Linked DNA regions of Homo sapiens: regions 1 and 3 are each linked to region 2. Evidence: fine-mapped expression QTL. A gene starts in region 2. Each other region holds a variant in brackets. All regions are shown on one strand. Distances are from middle to middle. Region 1 overlaps SFSWAP (splicing factor SWAP). Region 2 holds the start of MMP17 (matrix metallopeptidase 17). Region 3 overlaps SFSWAP (splicing factor SWAP).

The links. PIP is the estimated chance that this variant, and not a neighbour inherited with it, causes the effect.
Region 1: its variant is the best candidate, but not a certain one, in a credible set for the expression of MMP17 in lung (GTEx, PIP 0.55).
Region 3: its variant is the best candidate, but not a certain one, in a credible set for the expression of MMP17 in aorta (GTEx, PIP 0.65).

What each region holds. Positions count from the first base shown.
Region 1 is chr12:131,798,671-131,803,886 of GRCh38, reverse strand. SFSWAP (splicing factor SWAP) reads right to left here. Exons shown (of 18, transcript NM_004592.4): 17 at 4,778-4,850; 18 at 4,149-4,464. The coding sequence ends at 4,399. It also overlaps the pseudogene RNA5SP378. Among named protein-coding and RNA genes, the nearest start is that of MMP17, 27 kb to the left of the region's middle. RefSeq lists an enhancer at 2,708-3,557. The variant C/T (reference allele first, on the strand shown) is at 2,200.
Region 2 is chr12:131,825,773-131,830,988 of GRCh38, reverse strand. It overlaps MMP17 (matrix metallopeptidase 17), which reads right to left and starts at 2,596. Exons shown (of 10, transcript NM_016155.7): 1 at 2,336-2,596. The coding sequence starts at 2,494. RefSeq lists silencers at 353-612, 2,602-2,731 and an enhancer at 260-869.
Region 3 is chr12:131,754,044-131,759,259 of GRCh38, reverse strand. It overlaps SFSWAP (splicing factor SWAP), which reads right to left. Exons shown (of 18, transcript NM_004592.4): 9 at 4,761-4,892; 10 at 3,781-3,874; 11 at 2,616-2,787. Among named protein-coding and RNA genes, the nearest start is that of SFSWAP, 46 kb to the right of the region's middle. The variant T/C (reference allele first, on the strand shown) is at 3,146.

The DNA.
Region 1 (5,216 bases), 27 kb after region 2:
TCTGTCCTAAAGAAGGAAAGAATATTTTTGTTGTTGTTGTTGTTGAGACAGAGTCTCACTCTATTGCTCAGGCTGGAGTGCAATGGCGCCGTCTCGGCTCACTGCAACCTCTTCCTCCTGGTTCAAGTGATTCTCCCGCCTCAGCTTCCCGAATAGCTGGAATTATAGGTGTGCACCACCATGCCCAGCTAATTTTTGTATTTTTTGGTAGAGATGGGGTTTCACTATGTTGCCCAGGCTGGTCTCGAACTCCTGGCCTCGAACTCCTGGCCTCAAGTGATCCACCCACCTTGGCCTTCCAAAGTGCTGGGATTACAGGCGCGAGCCACCATGCCCGGCCCCAGAAGGAATCTTTTTAAAGGGGAAAAACTCTAGTTTCCCAGCAGCATCCTTGCCGACAGTGAAAGGCAGGAAGCTGTCTAGATGTCCATGGCAGGAGAGTTAGGCCCAGGGAGGGTGGGGTTGCATCTCACATGGGTGAGGGGTCCAGCCAAAGTCACCCTTGGAAATTTCTTCAATCACCAATAAAGTAAGACATTCGGGGTTTAACATAACAGTCCCTAGCGGTGATAAAACTTTTTTTTTTTTTTTTTTTTGAGACTGGAGTTTCATTCTGTCGCACAGGCTGGAGTGCAATGGCGTGATCTCGGCTCACTGCAACTTCTGCCTCCTGGGTTCAAGCAATTCTCCTGCCTCAGCCTCCCGAGTAGCTGGGACTACAGGTGCCCGCCATCATGCCCGGCTAATTTTTGCAATTTAGTAGACAGAGTTTTACCATGTTGCCCAGGCTGGTCTTGAACTCCTGGCTTCAAGCGATCCTCCTGCGTTGGCCTCCCAAAGTGCCGGGATTATAGGCGTGAGCCACTGTGTGCCTGGCCGGTGGTGAGGAATTACTACAGTGTCATACACACAGTCATGTGTCTTGTATACACTATGCAAAGTCTAATTTTACAGTTTTTTTTTTTTTTTGAGACAGGGTCTCACTTTGTTGTCCAGGCTGGAGTGCAGTGGCTCATTCATGGCTCACTGCAGCCTTGACCTCCCAGGCTGAAGCTATCCTCCCACCTCAGCCTCCTGAGTAGGTAGGACTACAGGTGTCACCACGTCTGGCTAATTTTTGTATTTGTTGTAGAGACGGAGTCTTGCTCTGTTGCCCAGGCTGGTCTTGAACTCCTGGCCTCACGTGATCCTCCTGCCTTGGCCGTCCAAGGTGCTGGGATTAAATCACTGTGCCTGACCCAGTATTTTATTTTTAAAGATGGGGTCAGCTAGGCGTGGTGGTGCGCACCTGTAGTCTCAGCTACTCAGGAGGCTGAGGCAGGAGAATCTCTTGAACCCGGGAGGCAGACGTTGTAGTGAGCTGAGATCATGCTACTGCACTCCAGCCTGGGTGACAGAGTGAGACTCCATCTCAAAAAAAACAAAACAAAACAAAACAAAACAAAGATGGGGTCTCCCTTTGTCACCCAAGCGGCAGCACAGTGGCGTGATCACAGCTCACTGCAGTCTCGACCTGCTGGGCTGAAGTGATCCTCCTGCCTCCGTCTCTCAAGTAGCTGGGACCTCAACTGCGTGCACCACACCTGGCTCCAGTATTTAGAGTGCATGTGTGCTGTTGACTTTACCAGGGGGTCTGTGCAGAGTGTGACACCACTGTACTCATTTCCGGGGGACACTGGCCATCATGAATGGCAACTCTGGAGACGAGTGGTTAGAGGGCTGGGTGGGTAGTCTTCGTAGTCTTCCTTGCTCCAGGCACTGATGCCTGCTCCCTTCTACCAGGGAAGTGCCCCAGCCCTTCCAGCACCAACGCACCAAACAAAAACATCACTATATCAGGGCGTGGTAGGTCCCTCAGGATTCCCCGATGTTCCAGACGCTGGCCAAGTCTGTGTTGCCCTCTCCGACGATCCTAGCTGCCGCCGGCATAAACGTCCACTTGGCGGTGCACGGGTAGAACCACGATCCTGCTGACGTCCGGTCCCACGTAACGATCTCCCTGCATCAAGATGCAGATTTCTGGCTCATGATCCCCGACCCTTTACAGTGGAAAACGACCCAGCAAACAAGGAGGGTGTGTAAAACTTGGAGGCGCAAACCTGAGGCAAAGCAAGGTCACCTCTGCACACACAGAGCCCACCTCAGGAGCAGTGCCCAGAAGCCATGGCAAGCACGAACAGCCACGGCAAACACGGGCCA[C/T]GGCAAAGACGAGCCACGGCAAACATGAGCCACAGCAAACATGAACAGCCACGGCAAACACAGGCCACAGCAAACACGAGCCACGGCAAACACGGGCCACGGCAAACACGAACAGCCACAGCAAACACGGGCCACGGCAAACACGGGCCATGGCAAACACGAGCCACGGCAAACACGAGCCACGGCAAACACGAGCCACGGCAAACACGAGCCACGGCAAACATGAACAGCCACGGCAAACACGGGCCACGGCAAACACGAACAGCCATGCCTGAACGGGCCCGGTTGCATCTGATTGCGGAGGCTAAGCAGGGTTGGGCCTGGTTAGTACTTGGATGGGAGACCAACTGGGAGTATCAGGTGCTCGAGGCTTTTGGCAAAAAAAAAAAAAAAAAAAAAAAGACTACATACGTACAAAAACTTTTCCATGTAAAAAAACCTTCAAGTCAAAACAGCGATGACAAATTGGGGCAAACATTTACAAAATAACTAATACGAGAAGGCTAAGTCCCCTAACATGTAGAGAGTTGTTATGATTGAAAAAGAACTCCATCGCCACACACAGGAATGGACATGGTTGAGTTCACAAAGCAATGGAAACGCATTTTGAAACAGAAGGGAAACTGTGCCATTTGACTCATCACTGAAGAAATGCAATAAAAATCAAGACCTTTCCATCTTTCTGATTTAGCAAAGATAAAAATGTTTGCAGACGCTGCACCAGGAGGATGTGGGCAGCATCTGCCCGAGGACGGTCACCACAGCACTGACCCGGCAGCAAAGGCCACCTGCGACCCGGAGCAGCCACTGGGGAGCCCTGCACTGAACCGCAGTGCGCTGCTGCGGGAGGAAGCCAGTGTCTTCCTGGAGACGGCTTCACGTCCAGGTGCGGAGGGGCCGATGAGCATTTGTGGGATGGATGGCTACTGCAAGCCGTGGGCGGGGGGACCCTGAGTGATGTCATCTCAGAAACCAACGCATCGGGAGATGCATAGAGTGCTACATGAAGTTGGCCACTGGTTGTGAGAGGAACCAGGTATATGGTACCGTGGGGGTGGGGGTGGCAGAGGAGCCTGGCTGTGCAGGGTGCAGGCCACACGACTTTGCCCTCTGCCTCATCCAGGGCCTGTAGCATTTCTGAGTGGTTGTGGGCAGCTGTGGGGCCTGTGCCTGTGTGTGTGCCTGGCCCCACCCACCCACCTGCCCCAGCTTGCCCACCTGCCTCACCCACACTGGCCTTCGCGGGCAGGCAGCGTCTGGACCCCAAGCGCCATAAGGAGGAAAAACCGTAATTCAATTTCTGGGTTTTGGTAAATTGGCAGAACTGACAATGGAACTTGACCTCGGCACAGCAGGCGTTTAAGTGAACGCCAGGGAGTGTCCTTCCTGTGGGGACAAAAGTGTCACTGTGACCTGCCTACAGCAGACAAGCAGCAAATCCTCATTTCTGGTGTAAGGACCTTACGAGCCCCAACTCCAGGTGGCCGGACCCTCAGCTACACACAAATTGTGTTTCCACTGGGGGGCCGAAGCCTGCAGTGGAGTCCCGGGCATCTGCACGTCAGGAAAGGCGCCAGGAGCAAGCAGCCGGCGCTCAAGGCAACATGCGGTGCTCAGCATGGTGAGGCGGGGCTGGGCTGCTCCCCTGCTGTGCACCACTGCCGCAGGGAGGGCCTGTCCGGCAGTTGCAGCATGGGTGCCGGCAGGGACACATGCCCACGGGGAGCTGACGGCCTGGGAAGAAGGGGTGTGCGGTGACCGCAGGAGGCGTGGAGACGGGGAAGGGGAGTCCAGTGGCTGCTGTCGGAGGGCTGGGGGCCCAGGACAGGGAGGCCCAGTGCTGCCCACCTGTCCCTGCCACACCTCCATGACTACACGTGTAACAGATGACAGACGGTCAAACAGACCCAGAAGCCAACCAAGGAGAGAAGGAAGAAACCACGCCAGGGTCTAGCTAGAAAAGGTGTTTCCTCCCATTTTATTTCATAATACATTTTCACAGAAACATGATATATTTACAAATATACAGGTAAGAGACTGCTGGTCAGAAATCTTAAAACTCAAAATGTCATCAAAAATTAATTTACAAAAGCCACCAAGGGTCCATGGAGGCGGCCAGGTGGATGGTGTGGCCGGCGTCTGCGTGAGCCTGCCCAGAAGCCCACGCAGCCTCCCGGCTCTGCCTCCGCTGGCCCCGTCTCAGGAAGCGCTGGTTTGCAGGTTTTTGGAAGCTGCAAGCATCGCTCTGACTTTGGCCATGAGATCCTGTGCAGGGCGAGACACAGAGGAGAACCTGTGAAGACCTGGCCAGACAACCCACGTGGTGAAGAAATTCATCAACGAGTTGGTGGTCAAGACCAGACGGTGCTAGCACCGTGGGGGCGGCGGAGGAGCCTGGCTGTGCAGGGTGCGGGCCACACGGCTTTGCCCTCGGCCTCACCCAGAGCCTGTGGTATTTTGCCCGAGATCCCTGTCCCATGACAGGGACAGGAGGGACAGGGAATGAAAATTAGCAACAGAGAAACCACGAGGCCCCTTGATGAAAGGCTGGGAGCGGGAGGGGGGCGTGCCCACTGACCTGAGTGATTTTGCTCTGCACGGAAGAAACGATTGCTGAAGAGATCTGGGCTTCTTTTTCCTGAGAGACTCCCCTAATGCAGAGAGAGAGAGAGCAGAGCTTACAACCGTGTGAAGATGCTGAGCCAAGGCCAGTGAACAGCATCCCCACCTCCGAACCCCAACTCTAGAACTGAGAAGTGCCCACTGCATCTGCTTCCAGTATCTTTTTTTTTTTTTCCAGACAAGAGTTTCACTCTGTCACCCAGGCTGGAGTGCAATGGCACGTTCTCAGCTCACTGCAACTTCTGCCTCCCAGATTCAAGCAATTCTCCTGCCTCAGCCTCCTGAGTAGCTGGGATTGCAGGCGTGTGCCACCATGCCCGGCTAATTTTTGTATTTTCAGTAGGGACGGGGTTTCACCATATTGGTCAGGGTGGTCTCGAACTCCTGACCTCAGG
Region 2 (5,216 bases):
GAGGGAGGCGGACGCCTGTGGAGACCCTGGGCTGCTCGCTGTATGTCGTACTCAAAACACAGAAAGACAAAAAACTCAGGCCCACAAGGACAAGCAGCCCCGCCAAGGACCCCCGGGGGGACAGTGCGCTCTTTTGTCCCCGCCGGGGGCTCCTGAAAGCCCGGCTCCGCAGCCCAGCAGCCTGAATCCCGGCCTTGTTCACGTGCATACGGGGGGCGCTCCGGGGCGGGCCCTCCCCTCCAGCCCCGGCTCCAGCCCTGCTGGGTGCAGCTCTGTCTGCAGCTCTGAGACAAAGGAGCACTTCTCGTCCCTGGCGCCCAGACCTGAATATCAGTCCACTCCGGGAGCGCCTCCGGCGAGCGGGCGGAGGAGGAGTCCCCGCTCCCGCCCAGATCCCGGCCTCCTCGTCCCTCCCCGCGGGGAAGCCGCCCGCCCCTGGGCCTGAGCTCGGCCCGCGGTTCCCCGAGGGCCAGCAGAGGACGCCCCGCACCGCCAGTGTGAGCAGGAAGCCGCGGCAGGACGGAGGCTCCACGCCAGGCCGGGCCCGACACGGAGCGGGGCTCCAGGCAGGGGGCTGCCCGCAGCGTCCTCCCTCTCCGGCTGGACACCGGGGCCCCACTCACTGCCCCCGGCCAGGCTGGGGAGCCACATCCTCCGCTCGGTGCTGTCGCAGGGCGCGGGGCGGGTGACCCCCGGGGTGCCAGGAGAGACCGAGGCGCAGGTACCAGCCGAGAGGAGGGCGCCTGACCCACTCTCTCCGGGCAGGGGGGCAGGTGGGTGGCGAGAAACTTCCAAACCGCACTGGGTCTGATCAGCCAACATGGCTCGGCCGGGGGTCCATCCTCCTGAGTGTGTGGGCCCCACCTTGAGTCCTTCCCTGGCATTGCCCCGGCCCCTTCTGCGGCACCCTCGGACCTGGAAGGCGGGCCTGGGTTCACCTCCCTCCACAGCTGGAGACCCCAGGCCCCCAGGGCGTGATTCTCAGTGGGGGATCCGGGAGATCCGCACCTACAAAAGGGTCTTGAGGAGGTGGAGGGGGGCACCCCAAGTTCACAGGCTGCCTGGCTGGAAGGAAGCCACTGTGGGGACCTGCAGGCACCTGGACGCGGGCAGCAGGGACAGTGGCCAGCACCCTCCCAGATGGCTTCGGGGCCTGGGGCAAACGGTGGCCAAATCGGCTTCCCATCCAGACCCCCTGGCCAAGTCCTGCCAACCACAGGGGCTGCGGGTGCCACCCAAGTGGCCCCTCCATATGCCTCGACTGCCTGAAATACACCTGCGCTGACTTGCTTGGACCCCAAGGTTTTGGAGCTCCTGAATGTCCACTGCGCTGGGCGAGGGGCCCTGCCAGGACCCCACTGGGAGACTGTCCGCGGACGAGGGCCAGGCCGAGTACTTGTGTGGGGCGGGGAGGCCTCGGCTCCTGGCCCGACTCCCTGGGTAGGAGTCCATTGAAGGCAGCGGTGGGGCAGGAGCCTCAGAAGGAACCAACGAACCCAGCGGGAGTTCACCCGGCCGCCCCAGCGGGGGGGCGCTGACCCCACGACGTGTGCTCTAAATCTTCCGGGTCCACAGGAGACGCGAGTCCCGGCTGCGGAACAGGGGAGGGGGCTGTAGGAAGAGGCCACGTCGCTGCCCCCAGGCAGGGTTTCTAAGCTGAGCTGGGGACAGCTACTGGGTGTGGAGTGAGGAAGGCTCTCCCCGCGCCCCCGGCTCAGCACTGTACCAGGGCAAGGCAGGGCCAGCCTGGCCGACCTGGGGTGGAGGGGAAGGAGGCTGAGGGCCAGGTCCTTGTCCAGTGGGGAGCTGGGGGCCAGCATCCCTGTGCCCCCAACACCCTCAACCGAGCAAACTCGGGGGCTCAAGGCTTTCGGGGTGCCCCCACTCCGTAGCCCCTGCCCTTCCTCGCTTTGTGGGTGCGTGCTCCTGCCCCCGCCACTCCCACCCGGAACGCACGCAGCGCGCAGAGCTCGGGGCGGCCGCGATGCCTGCTCTCGCCCAGCCCGGCTGCTCCGGGGCTGCTGCAAGCCGGCGACCCGGGCTCCGGGTGGGCGACCCCCTCACAACTCCACGGGCTCCTGCGGCTGCGGCGCGCTCCCAGCGCACGGAGCCGGGACGGCAGCCGGCGCCTCCCCAGGACTCGCGTGCGCTCGCCCGGTCGCTCAGCCCGCGTCCCTGCCTCAGTCTCCCCACCCAGGAAATGGGTCCAGGGCGCCAGGGCTCCCGCGCGACGCCGACGTGCACTGCTGGGGTCTTCCCGGTCCCCGCCACCCGGCCCGCGGAGACCCCCGGCTCCGGCCCAGGAGCTCCGCGCCCGTCCCGCCCGCGCGCTCACCACTCCCAGGCTGAGGTCCTCGGCGCGCGGCGCGGGTGCGGGCGCGGCGCAGCCCCCGCGGGTCCCCAGCGCCAGCAGCAGCAGCAGCGGCAGCGGCAGCCGCGAGAGTCCGGGCCCTGGGGGCGGCGGGCCGGGTCCCCGGGCTGCGCGGCGCCGCATGGCGCTCACATGGGCCCGCGGGCGGCGTGCAGGGTCCCGCGCCCTCCGCTTCGCGTTCCGCAGCCCGGCGCCCTCCGCTCTCCGCGGCGCCCCCGCCGGACTGAGCCCCGCGCGGCAGCCTCAAGCGGCGGGGCGGGGCCATGCAAATGTATGCTAACGAGGCCGGCCGCCTTAAAGGGCCCGCGCCGCCTCGGACGCTGCCACCCCCGCCCGCCCCGCCGTGTCCGCGACGGGACTGGGTCCGCGGCATCACAGGGAAGGCGTTTCCCCGGGTGTCTTAGGACGCTCTTGGGGCGGCGGGGACGCGCGGGATGGGCGCGGAGGCGGGGGTCGGGGCGCCTGCGGGGAGCTGACCCTGACTCCCCTCTCCGGCCGCGCTCCCGGGTCCACCCCCCACGGCGCCGAGGCCCGGGTTCAGACCCGGGTTCAGGCCCCGGAGCCGCCGCCGCAGCGCAGCAGGTGGGCGCTTGGTGGAGCCCGCGGACCGCGGGAGAGGGAGGGTGGGGCTTGGGGGGCGCGGGGGACTGGAGGGCGAGGGCGGGTGTTGGGGGGGCTGGGGTCCTCGGCGGAGGCTCTGCGGTCCCTGCGGGCCTGGGAGCGAGAATGTTAACTTGTAATGTTTGTTGGAGCGCAGCGTGTGCCTGGCACATGCCCAGGAGTTACATAAATAATTTCATTTACTTACAACATTTATGAGATGAAAACTATGATTTCCATTTCGCAGACAAAGAAACTGAGGCCCAAAGAAATGAAGTAACTTATGGGAGGTCCTGGAGCGGGCAAGCGGCAGAGCCAGGGTCAGAGCCCGAGCAGGCGCTTGTGTGGATTGAACTCGTGCAAGTTGCGTACAGGCTGCCCACCGAGTGGGAGATCTTGGGAGAGGGCAGGGGGTGAGGTTCAAGGGTAACCCTTGCCTTTATTCAGCTTCTCCTCGTGCTGGACAGCATGGCTTCCCCTCCTTCCCAGGCCCTCCTGCTCCACCACCCCAAATCGCAGCTGGTACTGTCAGGACTGAGGTCTCATTCTACGGACAGGGAAACTGAGGCTCGGCCCCTTTTACCAGAACTGGTCTCAGGGAAGTGGTGCCCCTCCCCTCCTGTGAGGGCCGACTCCCCCCAACCACCCCCCCCCCCCCCCCCCCGCTTCCCTGGGTACTCTGGCCCATCCTGTCCCTGCTGCCCTCAGAGCCTCCCTGGCCCGGTCTGAACAGGGTGATTCCACACCTGCTTCAGATGACCTTGGTTCGGACTGATGGGATCACCTGTAGGAGGTGGGGACTTTCACAGGACATCCCGGATTGTTTTTTCTTTCTTTCTTTTTTTTTTTTTTGCTCTGTTGCCCAGGCTGGAGTGCAGTGGCACGATCTTGGCTCACTGTAATTTCTGCTTCCTAAATTCAAATGATTCTCCTGTCTCAGCCTCCTGAGTAGATGGGATTTCAAGCGTGCACAACCGTGCCCAGCTAATTTTTGTATTTTTAGTAGAGACGGGGTTTCACCATGTTGGCCAGGCTGGTCTTGAACTCCTGACTTCAGGTGATCAGCCCGCCTTGGCCTCCCAAAGTGCTGGGATTACAGGCGTGAGCCACCGCACCTGGCCTCATCCGGGATTTTGACCAAGTGCATCAGGACAACCTGGTTTCCAGAGCAGAGACCCAGCCAAAGCGGCTGTAGTCAAGGAAAGGAAGCGTATGGGTATGGGCTCAGGAAACGGTGGCGTCCTAGCGTGTGCCAAAGTCAGGCAGGGCTGGACCAAGTCTCACAGCAACAGCGTCAGAACGCGGTTTCTCTCAGTCCATCTCTGTGTGGGGCAAAGACGGCCCAGGGCAGCTCCTGTGCATCCTTCCCCCTCAGCAGGCCCAGCCAGAGACAGACTCTTTCTCAACCAATGGTCCCAAGGCCACCTCTCTCTGGATTCTGGGTCAGGACCTGATCGTGGGGCCAGGGGCAGGGAAGTGAGCTGAAGCCCTGGGCTGGAAGGGATTCTCTACAGGAAATCAGAGGTGCTGAAGTCAGAGGAAGGGAGGGTGGATGGCAGGCAAAGCTGGGTCGAGGACTCAGAAGAGGGAACGCGGCCAGTGCCCCCACTGCATCATGGGGCTCATACACATCTGAGACTTGGAACAGGACGCTGTTGAGGGGCTGTAGCTCGGTGCTGGCAAGGGGCTTCACCGCGGGGCTTGCTGGCATTGAAGGGAGATGGCTTGTTTATGGAGCTTGGGCGACAGTGGCTTGGGATGTACAAATGTGAGAAGGGCCTTACAGGCAGGCCACTGTTCTCCCCAGAAAGGCCTGGTGGCGGCTGGTGAACTGGAGATGCTTGGTTAGACATCGGGAATTTGACCTTCCTCAAAGCAGCTGCCTGGCACCATGGCTGCTGTGTTCCCTTCAAGCCTGCCACCCCATTCGGACATCTGAAAGCCGCTGAGATCCAAGCCCCGCAAGAAATCGCTCTTCTCCCATCAGCTTTGCAACGCTGAAAAATCATGACGGCACGGTGGCTCACACCTGTAATCCCAGCACTTTGGGAGGCTGAATTGCAGGCGGATCGCTTGAGCTCAGGAGTTTGAGACCAGACTGACGAATATGGCGAAACCCATGTTTCTACTAAAAATATAAAAATAGCTGTGCATGGTGGTGTGTGCCTGTGGTCCCAGCTACTTGGGAGGCTGAAGTGGAAGGATCACTTAAGCACAGGAATTCCGGCGAGACAGAGCGAGACCC
Region 3 (5,216 bases), 72 kb after region 2:
TCTATGTTGGTTCCTGATTTCTTCATGAAATAATTTCAGCACTTATGTTTTCTTAGAAAGCGATATTTTTCACTGATTTTCAAATTCATTCAAATTTAAAATAATATATGTTCTCATATACTTTATTTTCTAGTGTTAACTTCTAGTTGTAGCTTGTGTACTTAAAAAGATACCTATAATTTTCTTCCTCTGTCACGCAGGCTGGAACACAGTGGCGTGGTCTTGGCTCACTGCAACCTCCGTCTCCTGGGCTCAAAAGATCCTCCCACCTTAGCCTCCCAAGTAGCTGGGAGCACAGATGGGTGCCACCATGCCTGGCTAATTTAATTTAATTTTTTGTAGAGACATGGTCTCACGATGTTGTCCAGGCTGGTTTCTATCTCCCCGGCTTAAGTGATCCTCCCACTTCACAGCCTCTGTGAGGAGCTGGTGCTACAGGCATGTGCCACCATGCCCGGCTACATTTTTGTATTTTTAGCAGAGACGGGGTTTTGTCATTTGCCCAGGCTGGTCTCGAATTCCTGGACTCAAGTGATCTGCCTGCCCTGGCCTCCCTATGTGCTGGCATTATGGGCGTGAGCCACCACACTCCACAGCAATTTCTAAGCAATCTTTTCCATGTCTGATTACCAGTAGCACTAGTTTTATAATATTTTCCATTTTGTAGAATACAAATTAGAGACTTAAAAGATTTTTCTCCTGTTACGCAAGAGTCTGTTTCAGAGATGCCCATATGCCTGGAGGCTCAGCTGTGTCTCCCGAACTTTGGAATCTCTGTGGGCGCAATGACATTTCTGTCTCCGCATCTTTTCAAAGAGAGGCTGGCCTGTGCTTTTGAGAACTGAGAGTTAGCATGGGTTTTGTCAGATATTGAGTAGATCTCTGTTCAAGTGTCTCAGGCTTGGGTGGATGTAGACGGTAAACTTCTCGGTGTGTTGTTTCATCTGCCAGGTTCTAGGACAATCAGGGAAGTGTGGAGAAGGTCACGCTGGTTGGCAGCAGCCTTGTGGGCAGGGCTGCTCCTCTGCGGGCCCCACAGCTGGCAGGGGTCAGGTGCCTTCCCTGGGCTCACAACCCCTCTGCACACCCCATAGCTGGCTGGGTCAGGCGCCTTCCCTGGGCTCACAAACCCTGGGGCAGCAGGCAGGCTCGGGCTGTGGTTGTGTTCTGGGGTGTGAGAAGGGATGAGGTACTGCTGCCTCTGGGAAGCTCCCAGCTTGTTCCAGCCTCCTGCCTGCCCCTCTGTGGCTGACAGTCGACTCCCCTGGAGTCACTGCCCTGAGTCTCAAGGGTACTTCTCTGCAAGCTCCAGGTATGCTGCCTTACCCTGACCTATAGACAGTACCTCTCCCCGGGTTTCTAGAGCAGTAACCATTTTCCTCCTCTACTTATTACATTCCTTTGATTATCCCAGTGAGAGTATGCGGGTGGCCGGGAAGGGTGAGAGCTGGATCACTTGTGCTCAGGTAACCTACTCGAATGAGAGGCCCAAAGACACATATAGTGAATTGCCTAGTTAGCGGTTCATCCACATGGATTTGGTTTCGCTGAATGATCACCATTCTCATACAACAAGGCATCTTTATGCAAAGGACGGTCCTCTTATCACCCCAGCCCACTTCCTCAATCTCTTGTCTCCACTCTGCCTTTCCTTCTGACCCAAGAGCTGTCGCCTCGCCCCACTGCCACACCTCACCCCACTGCCACACCTGTCACACTCCATTCCAGGCCACCAATGCCACCAGAAATCTCTGAAGTCGCTCCAGTGGCTTAACCGCATCACAAAGTCACCAGACTGGATAAAGTTATTCCGCTGACCTAAAGCCTGTCAGATGTGCTGGCCCCTCCCCGACAGGGTGCACCGGGGCAAGCTGGCCAAGGCTCCTTCACCAGCCACCCCCGAAGTCACTGCTGACCACCTACCGCATCTCAACACGGGGCCGGGCAGCTCGCACCACGGGGCTCCTGCCTAGGGCTGCACCCCTGCCTCAGAGCTTCCCGTTCCTCTCGCAACACCAGCTGAACGCCTCTACTCCACAGAACCTCCCTCCCGCGGGGGGAGCCCACTGCTGCTCCACGAGGTTCCTGGCTAAGGGCCTGCTCTGGCCTTTGCTTCTGTCTGCTTTTTAATTACACTGACTTTGTATTTTTACATGCCTGTCTGTCCTGTGACATCAAAGTCTTGCTCCAAGAACATAACAAAGTAACTGAAATCGAGTGAGTGAAGTATTGCCTGGTAGAGATTCTCAAGGAATCTGCTTTGACAAATTAATAAATGAATTTCACTGGTACAACAGTTTGCATATAAATAGTTTCAGAAGTCCCAGGGAGTACAAAGGATTATTTGAAACTTTCTGTACAAATGTCCAGTACACTGAACAGACTGTTAAACAGACACATACCTAAGGGCTGCTCACACTCACGTTACCTCCAATGCCACGCGAGGCAAGCATGACACAGCATGGAAGGCAGAGGTTTCACCACAGCAACCTCCAGGGGGCCGCCAACCCCACCCCAGCCTGCAGGTGAGGGCGCTGAGTCTGAGGTCACCGAGGATCCTACGCTTGCCAACTTATGGTGGAATGTGCAAGGCCAACATGCAAGTGGCAGCATACCTTTCACCAGCTTCCCGTCCGGGACGGTCTTACTGGACGATGCCTCCTTCTTCCCGCCTGAGCCTGCCCGTGCTCCCACCTCGGCTGCGTCTTCAGGCGCGCCATCCTCCCCAGCATCACTTGGCTTCTCGGGAGCAGAGTCTGTGGGAGCCTCTTCTGGTGCAGACACAGCCTAGAGATTAAATGTCACTATAAACTGTCAGCAGGAAATTATACAGAAATTTTAAAAAAAGAGAGATGTATACGGTATATGTTTCACTGGACAACGGCAATTGTACATTACTGCCCAAGCAGCACTGGGAACAGACTTCCAAATCCAGATCTGCTGTTTTTTCTTACAATGGAATGTATCAAAGAGGAATGGAAGATTTTCTCCTGTCTGAAAAAACACTATACTCTTTGAAGCCCTAATACTGCCTTGGGAACCAATTTTCAGTATCTTTTCTTTGGACACTGATTACTCAGAATTCTTTAAAAATACCAAATTATCCCCATCACCTACAGAGGAGTCAGTTTCTTTCAGTGTGGGC[T/C]ATTGGAGATAAGGGTCTGAAGAAATCTCCTGAGAAGTAAGGCCCATGTCATCTCCTCACCAAAACTGGCTTTACAAAAATGTCAGGGTGTCTATATAACTGAGAAGAGCAGAGCAAAGGCAGAAGAGGGGGCTGTAGGACAAAAAGCACTTCCAAGTGCGCCAGCACCACGCTGGGGATCTGGTGAGGGGGAAGGGCGTGCAGGCACAGGCAGAGGCCGTGCTGCAGGACACCCCCAGCACCAGCTGGCCAGGCATGAGGCGCCCACTTATATTTTATATATTTCATACATGTTAACACAACAGAAGCAAGGTACCCGGCTGTCATGAAAGGTAGCTAGTAACTGTAGACGGCCAAAACATCGAACAGTTGAAGGAACAGGATTTTTTTTGTTTGTTTAGAACGTGCTGGACAAACAATCATCAATGCTGTGAACGTGGGCAGATGCTTTCAACAGATCAGGTTCCAGAGCTAAGGGGGACGTGAAAGATGGAGTATGCCAGACACACATTAAAAAAAGGTGAAGAATCACCCAGCCCTTTCACCTGTAGGAGAAGAAACAGAAAGCGACTTCTGATCTGGAAGGCGGAGCCACCTCTAAGAGCTTCACAGCCTCCCTGCATTCAGACACGTACCTGCATGCTATCGCCCCCTTCTTTCTGGAGGAAGAACTGCTTCTTAAACTCATAATAAGCATTATACTGGTGCCACGGCTGCAGGAACTCAAATCTGAGCAGAAAAAGAAAGAAAATGGGTCATTTACCAAGACAAGCTCACTGAAGTAACAACAGGCCCTGTTCTCCTAGCTCTTTACTGATCTCAACAATCCCACAAGGTGGTTACTGTTTTAGCTACTCATCTTATAGACGAGGGAGACTGCACACAGGGGGTCGAAATCGCTTGCCCGGGGTTACACAGGTCACGCTGCAAATGTGACAACATATCTTTACGTTTTATTAGTACTGAGGCGTGGGACATTGCTTGGTTTTTAAAAAGAAGGGTTTGTGTCTAGATTTTTAAGGCAGATTCTTGAAAACCATGAATTATAGGCTTTTATTTTAGGTAGCTTCAAAATTCCTACTTAAAAAATGAAACAAAAAACAGGTAACATAATTTAAAAACACCACCCAAGTCTAAGCAATTTAACAAGCCAATTAAAAAATGTATTTATCTAAAGACATTGGTTGGGCGTGGTGGCTCACATCTGTAATCCTAGCACTTTGGGAGGCTGAGGCAAGTGGATCACTTGAGGTCAGGAGTTTGAGACCAGCCTGGCCAACACAGTGAAACCCTGTCTCTACCAAAATACAAAAATTAACCAGGCGTGGTGGTGCGCGCCTGTAGTCCCAGCTACTCAGGAGGCTGAGACAGGAGAATTGCTTGAGCCCAGGAGGTAGAGGTTACAGTCAATCAAGATCGCGCCACTGCACTCCAGCCTGGGTGACAGAGCAAGACTCCATCTCAAAAAAAAAAAAAAAAAAAAAAAAGACATTTGAGCCAAGAAAAGGCTTAAAAATATATAAAAAAATTAATTCTGTACCTACATTTTTTTAAAAAAAGGCTAAACGAAACCCCCAAATGCCATATACCTAACATATAAAATTCTTCTTCTGACCTTTGATCATTCTTGGCACGAACACTGGTCTCGAACTTCAGGCCGTTCCTGGCGACATACTCGGCCAGCTTGTCAATCACGGGCTGGACGTCGGGGGGCGGGGGGATGATGGCGGCCACGGGGGCAAGTGCACTGCAGGAGAAGAGTCTGTGAGACCCCTGGGCTTCAGGGGCTCGCCAAGCTCAGTCCTGGCTGCTCGGGGGTCCTCACCGCCTCAGATGCCCGGAGAGACATGTGAGTTATAAACAGTGTGTTAGGGGAGGCTCTTGTTGAAGGTGATGCACACGACAGAAACTAAAGTCAACTAGACAGGATTGTTGTCAAGAGTGAAAAATGGGGATTTTAGTGATAAAAGGTGCATTTTTCCTACTAATTAACATTTCCCCCCAATCACAAGCTAATTCTTAGAAATAACAAAGAATAAGCAGTTTGTTGTTGTTGTTGTTATATTGAAAA